Homo sapiens: one gene and its partners. The protein of the gene in region 4 purifies or fractionates together with the protein of the main gene of each other region. This does not show direct contact. Each region holds a gene or a part of one and is shown on either strand. Other genes may lie near its edges. The genes, in order: ELAVL2, FAM120A, SAFB2 and APOBEC3D.

Region 1 (7,645 bases), on a different chromosome or scaffold from region 4:
TCTTTGACCTCTCAGTAAATAGTTAATTATAATATTCTCATCCCAGGCACGCGGGATTGCTAAAAATGCCTATTTCCAAAACGTTAGGCGAAAATGGGCCTACTTAATTTGTCAATCCAAACCTAAAACTCTTAGAATGCCCTACGCCCTACTTCCTGACGCTGACTAAATTATGGGAGAGCTCTCAGAAGAGTTCCCCAAGTCTTCCAAACCACTTCTTCCTACAACCGTAGCGTTTTTTGTGAAGAGCTCCAGAACAGGTTAGCTTTATGAAGCGGGGTGCCCAAGCACTTGGTTAAAAGAGGGAACGGGGAAGAAGTGCCTGCTGTAAGACACATTCAGGCAATGACAGCAATAAGTAAGGGCGAGAGTTAAAAAATAAAATGTTAACCCCATAACAACTTCGAAACTCTCAACATATTTTTTTGCGGGCTTATCTGTTCATAGTCTGACAAATCTTTCAGATGTCCCATTTAAGAAGCCATTTTACAAGGAAGTCTTAAGGCCCAAACACATTTCCTACCCTTCTGTTCCCCAAAACACGAACACCCTTTTTCTGACCTTTAGAAACTGATTTTCAATTTGGAAAATAATTTCTTTAGTTACTATTGTCTGCTGTGTACTTTCTAAAAATTTTCATTGTAAGTCTACGTTTTATAGGTTGCAGTTAATAGTGTAGGCCTGGGAAATAAAACATTAATCTCCCTCCCACCCCCAGAGGATGGGTATAATAAATAGGGGTGCGGAGAACGGCTGAAGGTTTAGAATCTTAACCAACTGGAGTGTTTGTACATGAGAGGGGGAAGGGACAGAATCCGTGCATTTCGGGGAGAAAGTACAGAGACCTCCATCCCTGTCCAGCAGTGTTAACAGTAAATACTAAATGGTTGGCTATTTCTCTCACCCTCGCCATAATAAAACCAGACCTGCAGCCGGTAATTACGAGAAAATACCCAGTCTCGCCATCAGTTTTGCTAACCGGTACTTGAAAATGGGAAACGGGGAACTTATCCAACCTCCAATTTGTCACAGTTGTATAGCTTTCGTATTAATTCTGTACAGACGTGAAATAGGTGGGTACGTAGCAACGTGCTGGGCATAAATTAAGCAACAATGGCCACGCGAGGTCTCGTCCGCCGCGGAGCTCCAGTGGTGGGCACTGCCACCTTGCCATCCCTAGCCCCCACCGCCCTTCGCAGAGTCCAGTCCGGGAGGCTGACGGTGCGCTGGCTTTCCCAGCCGGTAGAGTGGGTGGGGTGAGGAGCAACGAGACGTTAACCCCAGCCGGCTTTGTAGCTTTTTCCCATCCTCTGCCTCTCGAGCACCACATGAGCGCTCTCACGCACACACTCACCCACACCCCCTCGTGCCAATAATTTAAACTTCTCTTAGGAAAGCCAGCAGCTTGTTCCACCACCACCACCCCTTCCGCCCTCCCCGGCCCACGAACATCCTCCCCCTTTCCCACATCTACCCTGGATCCTCTCTTTGGCAGTAGAAAGCCAAATGATTTCTCCTAAACCCTGAGAAATCACAAAAGTTAAAATGAAGCGTGTGCCTATCTGCCCAGCTTGTCATCCCCAACCATCTTTCTCCTGGCGTCAATTTAACAATAGCTATTCGAGGAAGTGGGGGCGGTAAGGAGGGGGTGAGGGCTACGTGGCCGAGTTGGCTCCTGGGGTGGCTGCGAAGCCTCGCGGCTGCAGAGGGGTTCCCCCTCTCCCCGAAGGCGAAGTCAGCCGCGTAGGACCAAGGACAGGGCTTGGAATCCACTTCCCAGCGCCCAGCACAGCGAGGCTCCCAAGCAGCCGGCACTTCATAGACACAGCTCCAAGGATCTTATTTACGCTTTTCTGAACAAAGGGAATCTCATATCCGGTACAGGCTTAAGAATTCAGCCCCAAATTGGCTATCTTCTTTTAAAACTGAATTATGATAATTGGAGTCCGTGAATCAGAGCCCGCATACAATGATGAGTTCTGACAGCTTCTAACAACCCTAGCCTCAGCCCAGCCCCAGCCCCAGCCCTCAGGCGGCATGTACTTTTTTCAGTCAACTACAACTCGCTGCCTGGTGCAGCATCTAAATTCCATCTGGCAATCCCATCTCCCCAGCACATGCTATCTGGTTAATGCAATTAAGCCTGTGGTTTTCGCTGGTCTAATCTGCCAGTCCAGGCTTCTGATTCCCCTTAATGATTGTAAAGCCTCTCCCGTCCTTCCGTTGCTGAGCCAAAGTAGAGGCATGCATCCCCAACACCCAAGTTATCACTCTCTCCCCACGAAATGAACTTCCGATCTCAATCTTGAAGCTCACTCCACATCTAACCTCCCATTGTACCCCTACTCCCCCCTGGCCACATTTACCACTTAAGTTTCTGCCATGGACATTTACGAATATTCAGTACGCTAAGCATGCGTCCACCGTCTTTTAGTCTAGCTCTTTAAAATTAAAAAAGCAGAACAGTAGCTTTGAAATGAGACAAACATGTGCAATTAACTTCATATTCTGTATTCCGCTCACTTACAGGTTTTCTGGGTTTGCCAGCGCATCGCTGCAACTAATGATTAAAGAAACCAAACCGAAACTTACCTTTCTCCCTTAAGGTTTTTGTGTATGTGTGTTTTTAAAGTAACGGTGCAGTTCTCCCAATAAGGATGAGCAAGAAGCTGCTGGATAGTTCTCTTAAGACAGCACGAAACCTAAACTGTGCTCGGCTTAAAAGAAGCAAATAAAAAGAAACGCTTTCGACCCCAAAGTCCAATGCTAAAAGAAATGGCGAAAAAAAATATGAAAGGGGAGGGGAAACTTAAAAAAGAGTTTAAAAAGACGGAGAGACTACCCTCCTATTGCCGTTCAACTAAACAAAAAGGGGCAAGAAAAACAAACCAAGGAACAAAGAAAAGAGACGAAAGAACGTTTTTTCAAAAAGACGATGTCTTTCTCCTTGTTGCTTTTTAGTAGGTCGCTACAGGAGTAAGCTGCTGCATCTCTAACTAAGAACAGAAATAGGGGGGAGGACGTCTTAAAAGGGAGGTGGACTGGACCACAGATTTATAGCACCGTATCACCAACCCCTTCTCTGCCTCCGCACTGCCGTGTGTGCAGCTGCTCTGCCAGGCTCCTATCCCGGGCAGCACGCGCGGAAGTATACGCCGAATCGCGCCACAACGTAACTTGCTCATCGCCCCAGGATCCTGATTGGTCCACACGCTTCCATTGAGGCCGCCCAGGCGGGGCCGCGTGAGACGATTGGCTATGGGCTTGTGTCACTCTCGAGAGCTCAATGGAGTCCCGTTTCAAGGTAAGTTGTGCGGGGAGGTACACTCTTAACACTGGCGGCGAAGGGAAATGCAAGAAGCAAAAAGAAATGTGGAGAGAGCAACGTGGGAGGGTTGGAACTGTACTATCAGAGTTTGCGATATGGCACGATCTCCTTTCCTCTTAAATCTTTCTGCTTCAGAAAGATTCATTTCCTTTGCCATCACTGCTGCATCTGTGGCATATTTCTTTATAACATTTAACTCTGTCCGGTATGTATGAGTCATTGAGAGCTCCCTCTCTTTGATCTGAGTGAAAGGGATGAATGTACATCCATTATTTGCCCGCATGCCTTTTTTCGATTTGTGTTCAGTACTGTATTTTGTATTAGATGTTAGGTAATTGTATGTCTTTATTTTAATATACGCATATTTCAGATTTATGTGTCCCCATGAACCCCTTTTTAAAGCATCCTTTTAAGATAAAGATGAAGTCAGAAATGCTCTCAAATAAAGCTGCACGGTTTGAATTGGCTTTCACTTCATGTTAGAATAGAAAAGTGTAGGATAAATATCCTATCCAGAAAAAGAGGTATTGAGTAGAGCTAAGGTCCTTCACTTCGAGGTGTCTAATGATTCTCAAAAAGAGCAGCTGTATATAAAACTGGAACAAGCCACTCCTCTGCATTTGCAGACAGGTACAGTCCTTGGACCACACATGTATTGCTGACAGCAAAGATAGTTGAACCTTTATCAGGGCTCTTTCTGTGAGGATTTAAGAAGTTTAACCAGAAGACCAAGTGCTATCAATGCTTCTGCTTCATAGAGGAAGACTACTTTATTACAACCCCATATTTTAACAGCATTCAGGAGACCAAAATACAGTTTTATGCATGATAATTGTTTCTTCCTCTAAGTGAAAGTGAGGTCCTCAGGATCGTCTGGATGTATAAGTAGACACAATATTCATTTGACCTACGTTCTTTTCCAGCCAGCATTTCTCTTTTCAATCTTGAAAGATAGCACCAACTTCCTAGACAGTTTTTACCATTCTTACCAGAATGTGTAAATGTAATGTACACATTACATTACACATGTAATGTGTCTTAACCAGAGGCACATGCCTTTTTGAAAGGGATTCCTTTACATATTTACAACTAGTCGCTATCTTTGAGAATGCCGGAAAAAGAAGACACAGGTAAGAGTTAGAGATTGCAAAAGGGTAGGGTGTCATGGAGGGGAATGGGACAGAAGATCCCAAAGCAAAATGACTTTGAAGTGAGGAATACAGTAAATCAGTGTTCTTTGAGAGTGTCCTTGAGTGTTGATAAATGATTAATGGTGAAAAACAGACCTGTTTATCTCCCGTGTAGCCTGTATAACAATATACGAGTTCTGTTACTTTGCATGACAATACCTGGGGCTTGAGAAAGAAGGCCTGAATCTATGTTATCTTATAATTAGTGTTTATAAAATCATGCCTTAACCTCCACCCCCAGTTTTTGTATAACAACCTCTGGAGTCTTAATTTCAACTTAAAACTATTCTCTAGACCTGGGTGAAACTCACAGCAAGAAGAAAGAAAAGCACTTTGAAGAAATGGAGTCAAGGGGGAAAAGGAAGACTCCACCCCATCTAGACTAGATGTATGAATAACAGAAGATTGGGTTTGTAGTCATCTTCCTTCAACCCCTCCCCTTGTCCCCAGCTCCATACAGAGAAATAACCTTTAAATGAATACAATTTGGGGAAAGTATAATACTGTTTGATTTCATCAGACTTACCTAGGCAGTGAATTGTCTTTCCTCCTTTTTACCATGCTCGTAGGTTAATATTGAATTAGTTGCATATGCCCATATAATTTCAGTACATTGAAGTAAATCTTTACCATTATAATTATATAAGTGCCTTCTAACTAGGTGGAAACTAATACTTTTTTTGGTGCATGTTTATATCCACAAAAAAAGACTTGTAGATAACTGTGATATCTGTAGATAACCCAAAATGATAGGGACAGGTGTGAAAAGCTGGGAGTGATATGGAGTAATAAAAATCTAGCATGTGTATTATGTAAAGAAATTACATGGAAAATAGTAAACTTGTTCATTCAAATGAAAAATGCTAAATTCTGTAGATTCAGTATTTATGGTTTTTTTTCAGCTTGGGCATAGTGACAAAATATTATTCAAAGTATTGTCATCCCTAACATGTTGTCTTTTTATGTAGGTGAGATGGACTTAAATTATTTAAAAAGTGAAAGTATCTTAAAATATTATTTTACTTCCTCATTAAAACAGATGTTTTTACATTTTAAAACTTTTAAATGGATAGATGTATTATAAGCAACATGTACTTTTTCAACTTTTAAAAATAAAAAATATTGATTACAGCCTCTTTAAAACAAGTGATATCTGGATGTAGATTTCACTTTGAAATTCATGTCTCATAGCTTGAAACATTAACAAATACATACTATCCTATGATTAATTAATGAAGCCTATGTGCAAACATCTCACTTAAGAATAAGCAAAAAATGCAATCAACCCCTTTTCACTCATAGTTTGGTAAAAGAATTATCCACAACATCTGAATTTGCATTAGAAAGTATTTAAAAGACATTTGAATATGATTAAGTTATATGAACTCTGACATATCTTCCAAGTTCCTGGCATTATTTTGAATTGCAGCAGAAAAGGGAGAGATGAAGGGAATGACTGCGAACTTGGAGCAAAAGTGTGAGGTGGATAAAGTTGCAAAAGAATAGTTCTCAAAACCGAAAAAGTCATGAATTTAATTATTTTACTGAAGTTTCTATATAAGAGAACATTTATTCATAAGAATATGCAAAGCTGTTGTGGAAAATGTCTTTTAGGATAAATAACTCCCTTACACTAGAGGTCCTGGGAGCAAGGGAAGGAGTGATTTTACATTTTGTAATAAAAGTTACTGTAAACTACTTGTAACGTTTTGTAAGTAAATAAAGAAGTTAAACTATTAAAATTAGTTTACAATGTTTGGCTTAAGGCAGTAATTTCCAACAGTAAACCTTCTTAGATGAATAAAAATGTTATGTGTTAGTATGGTGGAGTAGGGGGTTATGGTTCATACTATTGGAAATATGATAGTTTAATGTCTGCATGAGAAATACAGATATCATATATCTTGCTGATTACTCTTTTATTTATTCTTCCTAAAGTAGTATGTGGACTTGCCTTTCACCGAAAGGGGGGAAAAGTTGTGAAAATTGACACCAGTGTGAATTTATACCGTGGCAACCACGCAAGAGAAAGAGGCAGGAATTAGCACCATGGACAGAGACGAGCAGCCCTCAAATTAAGATTTGCAAAGCTTGAGACGGTGTTTTCTGTCCCTTTCTGTGAGACACGGAAACTGCGTGTCTTGGGAATGTTTTATTCCACGGGACTTTGCGGAAAAGACTGTCCTACTCCACAGAAACTCATTTATTTTGAATTAGGCTGGCATTTCTTAGGACTCAGCCATCATGACAAACTGTCAGGAGACTTAGAGCCCCGAACTCGCTGTGCACCTTCCACTGTCCTGTTTTACATACACTCCCTTGCCGGCGTGAGCTCGCCTTTCTTCAGAGTGTTCATGAAAAATAAATGCAAATCCAGGTAGTCTTCGAAAAGTCTGGTAAACCTGCTCCAGAGTTTTTAATCCTCGAATATCCCAGCTGGAATTGCAGCAAAAATGCCTGCCTGCTCACCCTTGCTCCCTCCCCCCGTTCTTCTCCCTGCTCCCTCCACCCCCTAGCAAAGGGGTAAAGCCTTTTACTGGAAGGTGAGTGACTCCCAAGACTATTTTGCGAAAGATTCTTTACATTGCAAACACTTTCGTTAGGGACAGTGCCAGGGGCGGCAGTGAGCGGGATCTCAAACATCCTTTACTTTCTCTTTACATTGTGTCTGTAAACTCCTGTTCAAGGGGGAAAGACTGTAAAGTAAGAGAGCACACTCAAGGAATATTCCCCCCGAATCCTGAGGTTGCTGTTTACACTTAAAGACACATGAATTGTTCATTTAAATGTTCTTTTAAAAAATGTAACTAGTGTCGCGGTAAATCTTTGAGACCAGCCTAGGTTGGTTCTCCCTTCCCAGCCCCCCACTTACACACACACACACACACACACACCTTTTTTTTTTTTTTCCTGGACCAATGTATGAGGTTCATTCTCCTTTAGATGATTTGCCTGCAGATATTCAGACTAAGATCTGTTGCACATGTCCCAGAGTGTCTAGGAAAATATATTTGCAGCCTCAGATCGACGATTATTTTATGTAGACGCTCCCACAAATGTCCCCAGATTTCCTTCCCCTCTTTTACTCAATAGCAACTTTTAGGAGGATAAACTCACGTTTTTCCTG
Region 2 (7,900 bases), on a different chromosome or scaffold from region 4:
TTGGTGAACACGGTAAGAAAAAAACAAACCAAGCAACAAAAACAAAAAGCAGGCAGTGCTGTGTTAGACTGAAAGTAAAAGATAAAAACTCTAAGAACCTATGAAGCGCCAGGGCAGTGCTGGTTGCTTTCACCCATATGGTCTCCTTTGGTGTTCTGCTGGTGCTTATGAAGCAGTATCCCTACTGACAATGACCCTAGCTTAAGAGGGCTGAGAACTGCTGAAAGTGAAGCTGTTTATAAATGGTACAGTCAGGACCGACAGACACATGGGTGTGGTATGACTGCAAAGTACCTGTGGAATTCAGATGGGATTACCATCCCCACTATAAAGGGCAATATGATCTGTTGCAGGAGGGTTTATAGGGTACTTAGTTACACAGGTCACACTGATCCCCTTTTCCTCTTTTTTTCTATGCAAGTATCTATTTGTCTATATGTCTGTCTACCTTGGTAGGTTGGGCTCCTTGAAGAAGGGTTATGTTTTCTTCATCTCCATATCCCCAGTAGCTGGCCAATGCCCAGTATACACCAGGGGCTCAGTCGCTGTTTGTCTTATTTTCTTGTTGACTCTACTCTGACTTAGGACATATCACTTTCCTCTCTTGACCTTCACATTCAGATGTGTTAATAAAAGTGGATAAAGACCACTCTAGCTTTAAAACACCCTCCAATATAGAGAGAACTCTGAAACCAGAAGCAGAAGCTGAGGAATGGTGAATAGAGCATTTTCCCTCACACGATGGGTATCAGGGTGGTTTCTTGTCCTTTCAATGCCTCTGCAGAACTTGACCCTAGTTTTTCAAATTGGACTCAAGAATGATCTTAGTGTTGGTGGTTTTGTGGTTTTCTTTGAGACTTTGTTATTGACAGAACAGCTTCTGGAAATCTGAAAAGAAAAAAAAAAAGGTAGTTTATATATTAGTTTGGAATATGAAATGTATTTTGTCATGGTCTCCAGAGTCCGAATATTGATCTCTGTGGAGCTCTCCTACCCTCTGCTACTGCTGATAACTCATAGTACTGGAGAGATAGCAGAGCCTGAAGACCAAAAAACTCAACTGCCGATACACGGCTGCAGTGTGGTCAGTTACTGATCTACCATTTATGAAGCAGGCCTACAGATGTGTGTGTTCTTCTGGGTAATTTAAATTGACAATTAATTAACAGGGCTGGTGCTAGGTAAACATTATAGGTTAGAATCCCTAGTGTGGATTAATTTGCTCTCTTCCATGATCGCAGACTCCCTGCTTAGCTCCAGTCTGCTGGTCTCCCAACATCTGCTAATGATTACATGGGCAGCATTAAGGTCTCTTATTACCTTGTTTGAAAAACTGGAAACTCATCTGTTATTGTTGGTGGTTAGATACCTCACCTAAGTAAAATATTAATTAATGATATTAGGCTGGGCGCGGTAGCTCATGCCTGTAATCCCTGCACTTTGGGAGGCAGAGGCAAGTGGATCACTTGAAGTCAGGAGTTCGAGACTGGCCTGGCCAACATGGTGAAACCCCGTCTCTACTAAAAATACAAAACTTAGCCAGGTGTGATGGTGTGTACCTGTAATCCCAGCTACTCCAGAGGCTGAGGCAGGAGATCACTTGAACCTGGGAGAGGGAGGTTGCAGTGAGCTGAGAACACATCATTGTACTCCAGCCTGGGCAACAGAGCAAGACTCCATCTTGGGGGAGAAAAAATAAATAAAATAAATACAAAATAAAAAAAGAAAAAGTCCCCAACCATTAGTTGTCATATTGTAACCTCCAAGAAGACATAACTTTTTATTAAATTTTAAATACAGATGTTTATTTTTTATTTTTTATTTTTAAGATGGAGTCTCGCTCTGTTGCCCAGGCTAGAATGCAGTGGCGTGATCTCGGCTCACTGCAAGCTCCGCCTCCTGGGTTCACGCCATTCTCCTGCCTCAGCCTCCTGAGTAGCTGGGACTATAGGCGCCTGCCACCACGCCCGGCTAATTTTTTTTTGTATTTTTTTTAGTAGAGACGGAGTTTCACCGTGTTAGCCAGGATGGTCTGGATTTCCTGACCTTGTGATCCGCCCACCTCAGCCTCCCAAAGTGCTGGGATTACAGGCGTGAGCCACTGCGCCCGGCCCAGATGTTTATTTTTACCTCAATATTTAAGCAATTTAACTTCAACCAACCCCTGAATTTGAGTTAAGGATGCAGAGTATATAAGTGTTTGTCAGCTAAACATTTTGCCCACCATCAATAGCTACTCAATAAATAAAGTTTTTTTTTTTTTTTTTTAAAGAACACAAAGCTAAATAGGGCAACTAAGAATTGAGTTTTATGTGTTATGATACAATAATGAATTTTAAACTTTCCAAAAGTACAATAACTGGTCTATGTTCTCGAGTATAAGTCTAGACAAATACAGTTTCTGGAAATAACTACAAAAGCCAACATTTATTGAGCATTTGTTGTGTGGCAGGCACACAGGTTATCTGATTTAATCCTTATAACAACCTGGGAGGTTAAGTACTATTAATATGTTGATTTTACAGATGATAAAATCCAAGGTTCAATAAGGTAAATATTTTTGCAAGGGCACAGACTTATCATAAGATGGATATTGGGGGCCTGACTCCAGAACCTTAGACCTCTACAATATAATAAGGTGAAAATAAATTTATTTCCAGAATTCCAGATACTGGCACTGGCATTTTTTTTTTTTTTTTTTTTTGAGATGGAGCCTCGCTCTGTTGCCAGTCTGGAGTGCAGTGGCGTGATCACTGCAACCTCCACCTCCCAGGTTCAAGCAATTCTCCTGCCTCAGCCTCCCGAGTAGCTGGGACTACAGGTGCGCACCACCACGCTCGGCTAATTTTTGTGTTTTTAGTAGAGATGGGGTTTTACCATGTTGGCTAGGATGGTCTCCATCTCTTGACCTCGTGATCTGCCCGCCTCGGCCTCCCAACGTGCTGGGATTACAGGCGTGAGCCACCACGCCCGGCCGCACTAATGCATTTTTAAAAATTAAAAGCAAGAGTGTTTAAAGAAAAGGTAAATACACGGAATGCAATGCTACAAATGAAAATACGAGTGATTAAAAACTACTACTCCTCACCTTGTGAACCTGCCTTGGGTTATAAAAGCAAATTTGGATATTTCTGGATTTTGCTCGTTATTTAATGGCTAACTGTATTATTTCTTTTATTTATTTATTTATTTTTGAGACGGAATCTCGCTTTTTGCCCAGGCTAGAGAGTGCAGTGGTGCCATCTCCGCTGACTGCAACCTCCGCCTCCCGGGTTCAACCAATTCTCCTGCCTCAGCCTCCCAAGTAGCTGGGATTACAGGCGCACACACCACCAGGCCCGCCTAATTTTTGCATTTTTAGTAGAGACGGGGTTTCACCATGTTGGCCAGGCTGGTCTCGAACTCCTGATCTCAAATGATTCACCCGCCTCGGCCTCCCAAAATGCTGGGATTACAGGCGTGAGCCACCGCACCTGGCCTGTATTATTTTTAGATAACATGTCATCCTGGCTTTGTGACTAATTTTATGCATAGGTGAGTGGCATAACTTGTCAGCCTGCTTTTAAATGTAACTTCCTAAAATACCAGCAGCATTTAATTTATGTACGTATGATACTGGCTTGCATTTGAGGTGGGTATCAGAAAAGAAAGCAGAAAAATCCAACTTGCCTTTTTCACCGGGAGTATGGGGGCTTCTTTGGCCAAACCGTGCGCGTGCAGGCTCCATGTGCTGGGCAGCAGCTGTCCGGCCACAGCCTGTCGGTTGCATCCTGCTCCTCTACAGAGGTTTCTCCAAAAAAAGAACAAATGGAGAGATGAAGGTAAGTAAAAGCGGCACTTTAAAACTTTTAGAGTGCTGGGTTTCTAAATTTATATTCTGAAAGACATTAATCTCTTTTTGAAAATGTTTTATGCAAGCCTAATATACATACAGTATCAACCTCATTTTAGAAGCAGTTACGACAGAGCTTTGGAACAGAATTTACGTAAACGACCTCCTTCCAGAAGATGCTACTAAAGCAACAAGATTCAAATCCCTCTCCCTCAGAAGAGCTGGGAGATCCACTGCAAAGGCGCACGTTTCAGTCTAGCCATTGCGCAGTGGTAACGCAGGCTTTCCCACGCTGCAACAGACCTGTGCTCTCAAGACAGTCTCTTCCGTGACGAGCAGGCGCTTAGGGCTACCTGTACCTTCAGACATTATGGTGTGTTTGGCCATGTCATTTGTCATAGGTGTAAAAACCACAACCGAGAGCCCGAAGCTGCTGGGATGAGCACCTGCCGCGGAACTGCATTCTCGCGCTCCTTCCTGCTCTTTCCAAGAAGCCAGGCGCGGCCGGCCAGCATCCCGCTCTCCCGGACCCCGCAGTCAGTGTGGGCAGCAGGCCCAGAGTGGTGCGAGCCGACGGCGGCGTTAGAAAGGCGGCGTCCCGACGAACAGAGTGACTCGGCCTCGGCTCCCCTTCAAAGCGCCATCTTATCGCTGCTTCCCTCAGGAGCAGGCGAGCTCTTCCCCAGGACCTGCTTCGCGGCTTCCCTTCGCCCGAGAACCACCGGGCGGAGGCGGCGGCCTCTCTGGCCCTGCCGGGAACAGGGCGCAGGGGAGGGGAGCGGCGGCCGACCGGCCTGAGGCGGGCGAACGGCCTCTGGCCTCCAGGCGCTGCCTGCTCCGGCTCAGAAGCCTCCCGGATCCCGTCCCGGCCCAACTCCGGGCCTCCGCCTCCGCCGCCGCCTCCGGGAGCCCCGAGCCGCGTCCCGCCGGCGCCGCCTCTTCCGCCTGCTAGCCGGCGGGCCTGGGCGGCGTCCGCGCCGGGCGGGTCCGCTACGTCAGCGCCGCCCGCCCGCCCCGCCCCGGCCCTCAGCCTCGGCCTCGGCCTCGGCCTCGCAGCGGCGGCAGCGGCGGCGGCGGCAGGTCCCTCCCCAGACATGGCCCTGGGAGGCGGCAGCACATGGCGGCCGCGGCGGCCATGAGCGCGCCCCCGACCCGCCCCAGTCCCCCCTAGAGGCCGCCGCCCCCGCCCGCCAGCCCGCCCGCGCGCCACGGCCCCACCACCCCCGGCCCCGCCGCCCCCCGCCCGCACCCGCGCCCGCGCCCCCGCCGCCGCCATGGGCGTGCAGGGCTTCCAGGACTACATCGAGAAGCACTGCCCGAGCGCCGTGGTGCCGGTGGAGCTGCAGAAGCTGGCCCGGGGCAGCCTGGTGGGCGGCGGGCGGCAGCGGCCCCCGCAGACCCCGCTGCGCCTGCTGGTGGACGCCGACAACTGCCTGCACCGCCTCTACGGCGGCTTCTACACCGACTGGGTCAGCGGCGGCCAGTGGAACCACATGCTTGGCTACCTGGCGGCGCTGGCCAAGGCCTGCTTCGGCGGCAACATCGAGCTCTTCGTCTTCTTCAACGGCGCGCTCGAGAAGGCCCGGCTGCACGAGTGGGTCAAGCGGCAGGGCAACGAGCGCCAGACGGCACAGCAGATCGTCAGCCATGTCCAGAACAAGGGCACCCCGCCGCCAAAGGTCTGGTTCCTGCCGCCCGTCTGCATGGCCCACTGCATCCGCCTGGCGCTCATCCGCTTCCACGTCAAGGTGAGGCCGGGGATCCGGGCGGGCCGGGGACCGGGGCCGCGCCGCACCCCTATCCCCCTTCCCAGGGCGCAGAATGTCGCCCGGCCGTGGCGGCGCTGGGGGCAGCGAGTTCCCCCAGCCCTTGCCCGGGATAGCCTGGCCGGGCCGGGCTGCAAGATGGATGGCCGCGGGTGCAGGCCGCGCGCTGCCCAAGCCCGTCTCCAGCTGTCCCTGTTCGGGGTCCGCGGCCGCGTGGGGACACTTGAGGGCTGGGAGAGAGCCCCGGACCAGAATTCGGAGGCGACAGTGTCATCATCCCCAATATCCTTAGTTTTTCCCATCCTATTTGAGGCGGGCAGGCTATCACTCACCTTCAACTTTGACAAAATACTCCCTTTTCTAATTTAGCCTGTTCTTTCCCAGCAACAGGTTCATCTTGGAAGCAGGCAGGATACAGAGTAATAGAGGGGGTTTCGCCAGAGCCCTTGGGGGCTGCAAATATCAGTGCTGCTGCCGCCGCCCTTGCCAATGTTGTTAGCCCGGTGACAGCGAGACGTGTCTAAGGGCCAGTGCCCTGGCCTCTACTTCAGAACGCAGTGCCCTGTCCGTGTTCCTCTTAGTACAGGGTGTTTAGAGAATCTTTCTATGGCTTTTTGTGTTAGATTTCAAAGACCCGTGCACTTTGACAGGATGGGATTTTGTCAGTTCTGTGACTTCACGTCCGTGTGAAAGAGGTCTTTAAGGCAGTTCGGTTTTGTAGATCCCATGCGAAAGGAGTCGCTCAAAATCAGGGGGCGAACTACGCGGGCGTGAACTCGCAGGATTTATTTTTCGGGTGCACAGTAAGTATTCAGTGACCTTCAGCGGTGCCCTGACGGGTGGGTAATCAGAGCTCTATATCACCGGCCTCCTCTGGCCCTTTGGCAGAGGGCTTCGCAGCTGGCACTGGGCCAGAGGAGAACTTCAGGACCCAGCAGTGACTGTGAAGATAAGCACATCCATGATCCTGGACTTCACGTTCTGATTGCTTGCTTTTTTCATTGGTTTTCTTGAAAACAAATTTTGGGGGCCTTTTTGTTGTCTTAGCTCTTGACACTCGGTCTTCCATCTTGTCATTTGACATTTCCTTGAAACTGCTGGAGCTGAAAGTTTGTGAAATTCTGTCTTCGCGGTTGCCCCCACTGCCCGCGAGGAGATGGTGGTAGTTAAGCCTAAAATGATAGCGGAAGTCCCACCCACGATCCGGTTGCAATTGGTGAGATGGTGTTTAAGTCGTGGGTGGAGGCGGCCGGCAGAGTCCCGATTGGCCCCTGCGCCTGGCAGACACACAGCTGCCATTCCTCAGGGAAGTTCGGGTGAGAGGAAGTGCCTGCCTTTTAATTTCTGAATCGGAGCCTGGGGCGCTCAGGGAAGTAAGGTGCTGCCATTTGTCTGAAGCGATCCATCTCCCTAATAGAGCGTAAAAGTGTTCATAGTTTAGTCTTGTTCAGAGATGGAAAAGACTACTTAAAAGACAGGATGAGCTGCACTGACTTGCCTTTGGTAACCGCACAGCTCTCTACTTAACTAGTCAAGCGACTTTCAAGGGAACACTGTGAATATTACTTAGGATTAGAATCAGTATGTATGCATATGGTCACTGTATCTTTAAAGAACTGTTGAGTTCTTTTTAATTCTACAGTTTCTTTATCTTTGCACCCCTTTGAATGCCTCGCACACCTAGTAGGTGCTCAGAATTCAGACCAATGTGTCAGTGTTAGGAAACTAGATTTAAGCTCCATTTAAGATCGTCTTTTTCACTTAGGTTTCTGGACACGGGATAATGGGATAATTTTGTCTGTATTTTGCTTTTGCTAAGCTTTTAATTATTGACCTAGGGTCATATTATAGTGCGAATTGCACAAAATGAATATTGTAATAACTCAATTACTTGGTGGTCTCTTAGCTGGCAACCTTACCTTTTTGAAAAGTGCCTAAGAGATTTAGCTACTAGAAATTTCTCAGCAACCAAGCAAGATGTCAGGAAGTTTGGGTACAGTGATGTGGGGGGTTGGCGGGTGTAGGGGGGTGCTTTTGCTTTCCTCACTGAAGAATCCTTTAAGCTCTCTCACTCATGGACTGGCCTCTTTTCATATGTAATTCTAACAAGCTTGGTTATCTATTTTCTAAACTCAGCTTGAGAAGAGGATGAAGAGGAGAGTCTGCCAGAGGCAGGAGCACCATTAATAGCAAGAAGTGACAAGAGAGATTTAAAAAGCTATAAAAAGCAAACATAATTCTGGGGCTATTTTAAGAAAAGGAAAACAACCCTATGTACTTCCTTGGTCCCTGAGGGTAGTAC
Region 3 (5,316 bases), on a different chromosome or scaffold from region 4:
GGGACCAGTTCTACCACGTGGGCCCATCACCGAGTCAGCGCCATCCCACTCCTAACCAGCTGCTGGCAGCAGACACTGAGCAGGACACACTTGGCAGCCAGGGGAGGGGCGGGCCCACCACACACGGACCCTCCCTGACAGAGCCCACCACACACCAGCATGGGACACAGCCCCAGACTGAGGTGGCAGGGGGAGGGCTCCCCAGGGCCTGGCACGCCCTCACCACTACCCACGCAGAGACAGGCTCGGGGTAAAGGGATTGGTCTGAGGGCCCTATGGTGCACAGCACCCCCTGAAGAATTCCTAGTTCCCATGGGCTGACTCCCCAGCCTCAGTTTCATCCCATGATGGGAACCCGGACAGCCCACTTCCTGAGGTGGTTATGACAACTCAGCAGGATGATGCAGGCAAAAGACTTTGGCAGCACCTGGCAGAGCCAACAGTCACCATGTGGTCACACCACTGCGCCCAGGGTTGGTCCCATCCCGAGCTCTACGGCCACCAGGACTCACGCATGTGCACGCGCACGCAAGACTGCGAATGGTAAACTTTATTAATGGAAAATGGAATGCCTCGTTAACAGAAACCTTGATTTAAAAATGGCAGAACAAGAACACATTTATTTAAAAAAAAAAAAAAAGTGAGTTCACATTGTATTGAGCTACAACATGGTGGCAGGATTTACTTTGCTTTTAAAAAGATCCCCCAAGTTCGAGGGAACCCTGGCTACCAGATTCAACAGTGCGTCTGCCCACCCGAAAACTCGCAGCGAGTGGGACTTAGTAGCGGCGGGTGAAGTGGGGGTACGGGGGGGGATGAGGGTGTGGGTGAGGGACTCTGCTGCCCCGGTCCTGGCTGGCCACTCCGCCACCTTCCAGTCCGCCACCTGGCACCACGTGGCCCTGGGAATGTCCACCTTGTGCAAAGCCGCCTCGCCTAGGAACAAAGTCAGACAATTTTTTTCCCCTTGAAGTGCTCAGCGTTTTCATCGTAACATGGGTTCAGTAACGGTCCCGCAGCCTTTAGAGCGCTTGGGTTTTTTTTCCAGGTGAGAAAAATCATCATCGCACATTGTATTCCAGGTAACTCAAGAGCGTTATTTGCATAAATTGCAAAGAGCTGCTTTTTGCTTTGTTTTCATAACATCCAACCCAGCCAGCTGATCAAACATGCAAAAAAGGGAGAGGAAGTGAGGAGCAGGAGTGAACCACCGTCCTCCACGGACGACACACCTTACCCCGCCACTCCACCGCGGCTTGCCATGTGCCCCGGCCCCGAGGGCCCAGACAGGCCCCTCTCGCCACCTAGAAGAGAAGAAGGGTCTGCAAACACTCCGTTCCTGGGGAAGCCCCTGGACACATGTGGGGGCCACAGCCACCCTCGTCCCTGGAGCCAGCCCCGTACCTTGCCACCTGGCGTGCTCCCGGCTAGCCGCGCCTGCGTCCATGGCACCCTGCCAGGCGCGTGCCTGGTGCTCCTCTAGCCGCTGGTTGTGCTCTCCCCAGTCACGGCCACCCCTTTGCCAAAAGAAAAAGACATGCAGCCATCTAATGAGCCTCCAGGGTTGTGTCGGCAGCAGGCGCACCCACCCTGACCTCAGCTGCATGGTGGGTCATGCCACACAACAAGGGCTGCATGTCAAGTGGGCAAATCAAGGGAAGGGACATTTCCCCAAAGACAGATGTGCTAGTAAGCACGTGAGAAGGTGCTCAACGCCACCCAGAAATGCCAATCCGAGCCACACCGAGATGCTACCTCCCCCTGGCTGGGATGCTAGAATCACACAATAACACACACCGTGGAGGGTGCGAGGAAAGGGAAGAACCCTTGTCCACTGCTGGTGGAAATGTAAAATGGTGTGGCCACTGTGGAAAAGTTTGGTGGTTCTTCAAAAAGTTAAGCGCAGAATTACCATGACCCAGCAAACCCATTCCTACCTGCCAGAAATGAAAACATGGCCAAAGACATCTGTGCATGAATGTTCCTAGCGGCAGGATTCCTAACAGCCAAAGGGAGAAGGACCCCAACACCCATGAACTGATGAGCAGATAACACTATGTAGTGTGTCTGGACCATGGAATGTTCAGCCCTAACTAGGAAGGAAGCGCTGGCCCAGGCAGCATGTGGAGATGAGCCCTGAATACCCAAGGCTTAGGGAGAAGCCAGGCCCAGCAGGCACACCGCGCAGGCCAAGAAATGACTCAAGACGGCAAATCCAGAGCCAGAAAGGGACCTGTGGCTACCAAGGGCAGGGGGGAGGGTGCAGCTGCTAAAAGGGGCAGGGTTTCTTTTGACGTGATGAAAATGCTTCAGAATCAGCCGTGGGGATGGCTAAACAGATCCACGTACACGCAAACCTCCACTGACTGCACACGTGAAACGGGAAGTGTGTGTCGTGTGAACTATACTTAAAGAAAGCTATTTGTTTAAAGTTTCAGACAAACTCTGGGAGATGAAAATCCGAGTCCAGTGTCCTGAGTCCCAAGTGGCCAAGCAGTCACAGTGGCCGTGCAGGAAAGCAGCCAGACCCATCTGCACGAGTGCCTGCCTGCTGTGGGTTGCCGGATGCAGTGACAGTCAGGCCAAGTGAGCCAGCCCACAGGCCCGAGAGGGGCCACCAGAGCCCCCAGCGCGCACTGCCAGGCAAGTGCAATACCGCCCTGGAGGGAGCGGAAAGCTCCCGTGTGGAACCTGCCCTCGGTGACCCGATGGCGCCCAGCCGCTGCTCACCATGGGTGAGTTTCCCGTTTACACTCCCGAGGTATTTACCATAACACCCAGCAAGCGACAGGACAGGAATGCTAATGAAGTCTCACAGGAGAGAACACTTCACACCAACTGATCAGAGCACTGCCACCGTCTGTGCTGCCCAGAGATTCAGGAGAAGCTTCGGGTGTCCTGGGACACTCGGCACAGCACCGAGTCAAAGTCCCTGGCAGAGCTGGAAGTGCCTCTCAGCGCGGAGGGAGGGATGGAACGGGGGAGCACAGGGGGCCAAAACCCACCCTGTGGCGCTGGGCAGGGTCCGAGGCAGCCCTGGGCCAGGGCTGGAGACAAGACAGGACACTCGGCTCACAGAGGAAAGCAGGGCAGCAGCCGCAAAGCAGTCCTGCCACCAGCCTCCTCACGGCCAGCCCAGACGGCAACAGGACAAACAGGCAGGGGTGACTGCAGCTGGCCAAAGAAACTAGAGAGGCACCCAGAGTCCTCCCAGACAAGCCCTGCCCCCCACCAATGCTGACAAGGCTCAGAACAGCACCCCCACTGCAGTGCTGGTGAAGGTGGCTTTGGACACCTGTGGAGGACCTGGCCCAGTGTCCTCAGCCCTGAGTCCTGGGTGGAGGGTCCTCCTAAGTGATTCTAATAGGCAGGATAGGGTTGAGAAGATCCACCCCAGACCAACTGGGGGTCAGAGAAAAAACCCGAGGAAGACACGTGTCAAGAGGCAACGTGGAGGCAGGGGCGAGGCTGCTCTACCACGGACGGGGCAGGACTAAGAGCTTCAGCGCTGTCTCTCCCAGTGTGTACGCAGCCCATGATCGAGACATTCACAACTGCAGGCGACCCCCAGCTCAAGAATGGGGATGGGCCATTCTGGGCGACCTGGACAGCTCCATCCCTGAAAGCCTGTTCTATGCTTTCTTCTTGAGAACCTGGACTTTCTGAGTCAGGGGTTTCAAATGGCAGGACCCCTGGTAGCCCATCCTAAAGCTCCCCTAGCTGAATCAAACCTTGGGGACGTGCCTGGCCAGGCACCAACCTTTTCCCAGGTTAGGACAGATGCTCCCCACCCGGCTGGGGCTCACCCACTAACCTGGGGGGAGGGGGCAGCCCCCGGCCTTCACTCAGCCTCTTGTCGGAGCCGTAGCCCCCCCAGCCATCACGGGAGTCCCGGCCGTGGCGCTCTGGGGGTCCTCCGTGGCCATGGCGGTCATCTCCATAGTGCTGGAAGGCAGGAGAGGAACAGGGTGACACTGACCATGTCACCCACATAGGCCCACCTTCCGGAAGGCCTGTCCACTGCAGGCCCCAGGGTGGCAGGTGGGGCGGAGCTGAGAGAGGACTGAAGGGTGCAGTCTCAGCCCTGCTGGGCCCTGCTTCACTGACCCTCTGCTCCCTGGCTCCCCTCCTCGCACCCCTACAGCTGCATCACTGCCCCACCTGAGCTGCCCCAGGAGCCAGGGCACCCTGGCATTACTGCCCTCAACAGCTCTGCTCAAGATCCACTAAGACGTCACCAAACCCTGTCTTCCCTGAGAAGTTGGGCGCCGCCTCCTTTCCGATAACAGGAGGGCCCTCGGGTGGGTCAGCCCCCCTGTGCTCTGGCAGGGCCACAATTCCGGCCTCCCTGGCCAACCAACTCTGCACGGAGCAGCCAGCAGCCAGGAAGCAGGCGGGTGCTGCCTGCTGTTACAGGCCATTACTCTGCCGCCCACCTCCCACCTCTCCACCAGGCTGCTGCTTTCTCAGAACTCACACCCTGCCACCACGCACGGGGCACCCGCATGGCACCACAGAGACTCAGGGACCATTCTTGTGGTCTTCAGCCCCCCGTGCCCACCAAGCACGGACTTGAAACATGGGGAAGCCCGGGCTCCCCCATCCCCCCGACCCTGGCACATGTGGGCTAAACGACAACCACCATTTGGGTTCTTGGGGGACCCCACAGGCACTAAGACCCAAAGGCTCCCTGAGCAAGTGGACAATGAAGAGACACATGAGGTTTCTACCGGATACAATGAAGAACAAGCCCAACATATTTGAAAATGACAGAAACTTGAGCATTACAAAACAATCAAATATTTGCGCTTTTTTTTTTTTTTTTTTTTTTTGAGACGGAGTCTTGCTCTTGTTGCCCAGGCTGGAGTGCAATGGTGCGACCTCGACTCACTGCAACCTCCGCCTCCCGGGTTCAAGCGATTCTCCTGCCTCAGCCTCCCGAGTAGCTGGGACTACAGGCACTCGCCACCATGCCTGGCTAATTTTTTGTATTTTTAGTAGAGACAGGGTTTCACCATGTCGGCCAGGCTGGTCTTGAACTCCTGACCTTGTGATCCACCCACCTCAGCTTCCCAAAGTGCTGGGATTACAGGCATGAGCCACCACGTCCGACTAAATATTTGTACTTCTAGTCGCTGGCCAGAACCCACACTTGCATACCCGCCACACGTGCTGACTTGGTTGCCACCTCTCTGGGATCAAGCGGCCGCCTGGCTAGAAATGGTCCGCTATGCCTGCACAGCAGTACAGTGGCCCCAGGGCTTGGCATCGGGGCTCTACTCACCTGCCCATCCCGGTGGTCTCCCATCATTGGCC
Region 4 (2,689 bases):
GTTGTGGTGAGCTGAGATCGTGCCGTTGCACTCCCGCCTGTGCAACAGAGCAAGACTCCATCTCAGAAAAAAATAATAAAAAAATAAAGAGGAAGGAGAAGGATGGAATAAGGGAAACTCAATGAATAAAACGCCCTGGGGCCTACTATGCACCCAGAAAAATGAAAAGTAAAGAAATAAAATAAGGTCGTGCATGTGGTTTATGCTCATAGTCCTAGAAATTTGGTAGGCTGAGGCAGGAGGATGGCTTGAGCCCAAGATTTCGAGATCAGCCTGGGCAATGTGGCACGACTCCGTCTCCACAAAAATTACAAAAAAATTAGCCGGGCGTGGCAGCACACACCTGCAGTCCCAGCTAATCAGGAGGCTGAGGTGGGAAGATTCCTTGAGCCTGGGAGGTCAAGGCTGCAGTCAGCCCAGATCGCACCACTGCACCCCAGCTTGGGCAACAGGAGAGACCCTGTCTCAAAAATAAATAAATAAGAAAATGCCCTGGGGCTTCAGGCCTGCCCTCTTCTCCCATCGCCCCACCCCTACACTCCTCCTGCTCCTGGTCTGAGCTCCCCCTGCCCTCCTCCTCCTCCTTCCCCAGGTGGATCCTGAGACCCATTGTCATGCAGAAAGGTGCTTCCTCTCTTGGTTCTGTGACGACATACTGTCTCCTAACACAAACTACGAGGTCACCTGGTACACATCTTGGAGCCCTTGCCCAGAGTGTGCAGGGGAGGTGGCCGAGTTCCTGGCCAGGCACAGCAACGTGAATCTCACCATCTTCACCGCCCGCCTCTGCTACTTCTGGGATACAGATTACCAGGAGGGGCTCTGCAGCCTGAGTCAGGAAGGGGCCTCCGTGAAGATCATGGGCTACAAAGGTGAGACGTGGGGGGCTGAGGAGAGTGGGTGCGGGAGGGACAGCATGAGGGGCAGGTGGGTCTGCAATGCCGTGGGGCGGGGCAGTGTCCCCGGGAAGCCTGCAGGGATGGGGCCGGCGCCAGCTGCAACTGGCAGCCAGGAGACCTGGCTTGGGAGGGGAGGGCCCAGGGCCGGGAGAGAGGCTTGCTGGGCCCTCACTGCTTTCTCCTTGTTTTTTTCTCAGATTTTGTATCTTGTTGGAAAAACTTTGTGTACAGTGATGATGAGCCATTCAAGCCTTGGAAGGGACTACAAACCAACTTTCGACTTCTGAAAAGAAGGCTACGGGAGATTCTCCAGTGAGGGGTCTCCCTGGGCCTCATGGTCTGTCTCTTCTAGCCTCCTGCTCATGCTGCACGGGCCTCCCCTCCATCCTGCACCAGCTGTGCTTTTGCCTGGTCATCCTGAGCCCCTCCTGGCCTCAGGGCCATTCCATAGTGCCCCCCTGCCTCACCACCTCCTCCCCGCTCTCCCAGGCTCTTCTTGTAGAGGCTCTCCATCCACCTCCCCAGTCCTGTTCCCCCAGCCTGGGTGCCCCTAACTTGACTCTTCCCATCTCCCCAGCATAACCAAATCTTTTTTTTTTTTTTTTTTTTTTGAGACGGAGTTTCACTCTGTCGCCCAGACTAGAGTGCAATGGCTGGATCTCAGCTCACTGCAAACTCTGCTTACTGGGTTCAAGTGATTCTCCTGTCTCAGCTTCTGAGTAGCTGGGATTACAGATGCCTGCCACCACGCCCAGCTAATTTTTTTTTTTTTTTTTTTTTTTTTTTGTATTTTTAGTAGTGACTGGGTTTCACCATGTTGGCCAGGCTGGTCTTGAACTCCTGACCTCAGGTGATCTGCCCATCTCTGTCTCCCAAAGTGCTGGGATTACGGGCGTGAGCCACCCGGCTCGGCCGCACAACCAAATCTTATTAAACTCAATCTAGTCTGGCCCTGGTGACTCACGCCTTTCGGAGGCAGAGGTGGGAGAATCGCTTGAGCCCAGAAGTTTGAGACCAGCCTGGGCCACACGACAAAGCCCCATTTCTACAAAAAAAAATACCAAAAAAAAGCCAGATGTGGTGGCATGCACCTGTAGTTTAAGCTACTTGGGAGGATGAAGTGGGAGGACTGCTTGAGCCGGGGAGGTGGAGGCTGGAGTAAACTGAGATCGCGCCACAGAACTCCAGTTTGAGCAACAGATCAAGACCCTGCCTGAAAATAAATCAATAAATACACTCAACCTAAATGGATATGAATATATGTAAGTTGAAAACCAGTTTTGAGAAACATCCTTTGTAAGTTTCATCCTACGAATTGGGTCATTCATGTCCTACGCAGCTAAAACAGAGGCCAGCAGCCAGGGAGGAAAAGCAGTCAGGCCACACACCATTGCTCCCAAAATGGACTTATCTGCAAGCCTGACTCCTGAAACTGTGCATTGTACCCTGAAACCAGCTTTATCCATAGCTTCTGCCATAAATGGCTGTAAGTCTTGGACTCCTTGCTCCAAACGCAGTGACTCAGCAATGGAACCTCCCAGCTCCCAACACTTCCTAGTGCCCATGGTGGGCTTTCCCACAGGGCAAGAGAACATTTCTCCTTTTTTTTTTTGAAGTGGAGTCTCGCCCTGTCACCCAGGCTGGAGTGCAATGGCGCAGTCTCCGCTCACTGCAACCTCCACCTCTGTTGTTCAAGTGATTCTCCTGTCTCAGCCTCCCGAGTAGCTGGGATTACAGGCGTGCACCACCACACCGGGCTAATTTTTGTATTTTCAGTAAAAACGGGTTTC

What was found.
Region 1: the proteins of APOBEC3D (region 4) and ELAVL2 purify together in Homo sapiens (affinity purification with mass spectrometry; 2 studies listed by BioGRID and IntAct, with this or other methods). This does not show direct contact.
Region 2: the proteins of APOBEC3D (region 4) and FAM120A purify together in Homo sapiens (affinity purification with mass spectrometry; 2 studies listed by BioGRID and IntAct, with this or other methods). This does not show direct contact.
Region 3: the proteins of APOBEC3D (region 4) and SAFB2 purify together in Homo sapiens (affinity purification with mass spectrometry; 2 studies listed by BioGRID and IntAct, with this or other methods). This does not show direct contact.

Annotation. Positions count from the first base shown.
Region 1 is NC_000009.12:23,823,214-23,830,858, forward strand, and holds the start of ELAVL2 (ELAV-like protein 2), read right to left. Parts: upstream 3,028-7,645; 5' UTR 2,593-3,027; intron 1-2,592.
Region 2 is NC_000009.12:93,446,810-93,454,709, forward strand, and holds the start of FAM120A (constitutive coactivator of PPAR-gamma-like protein 1), read left to right. Parts: upstream 1-4,875; 5' UTR 4,876-5,106; coding exon 5,107-5,580; coding exon of another isoform or gene 5,581-5,900; exon of another isoform or gene 5,901-6,792; intron 6,793-7,900. Other genes in the region: uncharacterized protein FAM120AOS, read right to left, coding at 802-888, 3,670-3,790, 5,338-5,900. UniProt on the Homo sapiens protein: Component of the oxidative stress-induced survival signaling. May regulate the activation of SRC family protein kinases. May act as a scaffolding protein enabling SRC family protein kinases to phosphorylate and activate PI3-kinase.
Region 3 is NC_000019.10:5,586,464-5,591,779, forward strand, and holds the end of SAFB2 (scaffold attachment factor B2), read right to left. Parts: coding exon 5,285-5,316; intron 3,946-5,284; coding exon 3,815-3,945; intron 1,518-3,814; coding exon 1,405-1,517; intron 1,305-1,404; coding exon 1,238-1,304; coding exon of another isoform or gene 1,234-1,237; exon of another isoform or gene 1,233-1,233; intron 937-1,232; coding exon 780-936; 3' UTR 536-779; downstream 1-535. UniProt on the Homo sapiens protein: Binds to scaffold/matrix attachment region (S/MAR) DNA. Can function as an estrogen receptor corepressor and can also inhibit cell proliferation.
Region 4 is NC_000022.11:39,031,102-39,033,790, forward strand, and holds the end of APOBEC3D (DNA dC->dU-editing enzyme APOBEC-3D), read left to right. Parts: intron 1-592; coding exon 593-872; intron 873-1,096; coding exon 1,097-1,215; 3' UTR 1,216-2,176; downstream 2,177-2,689.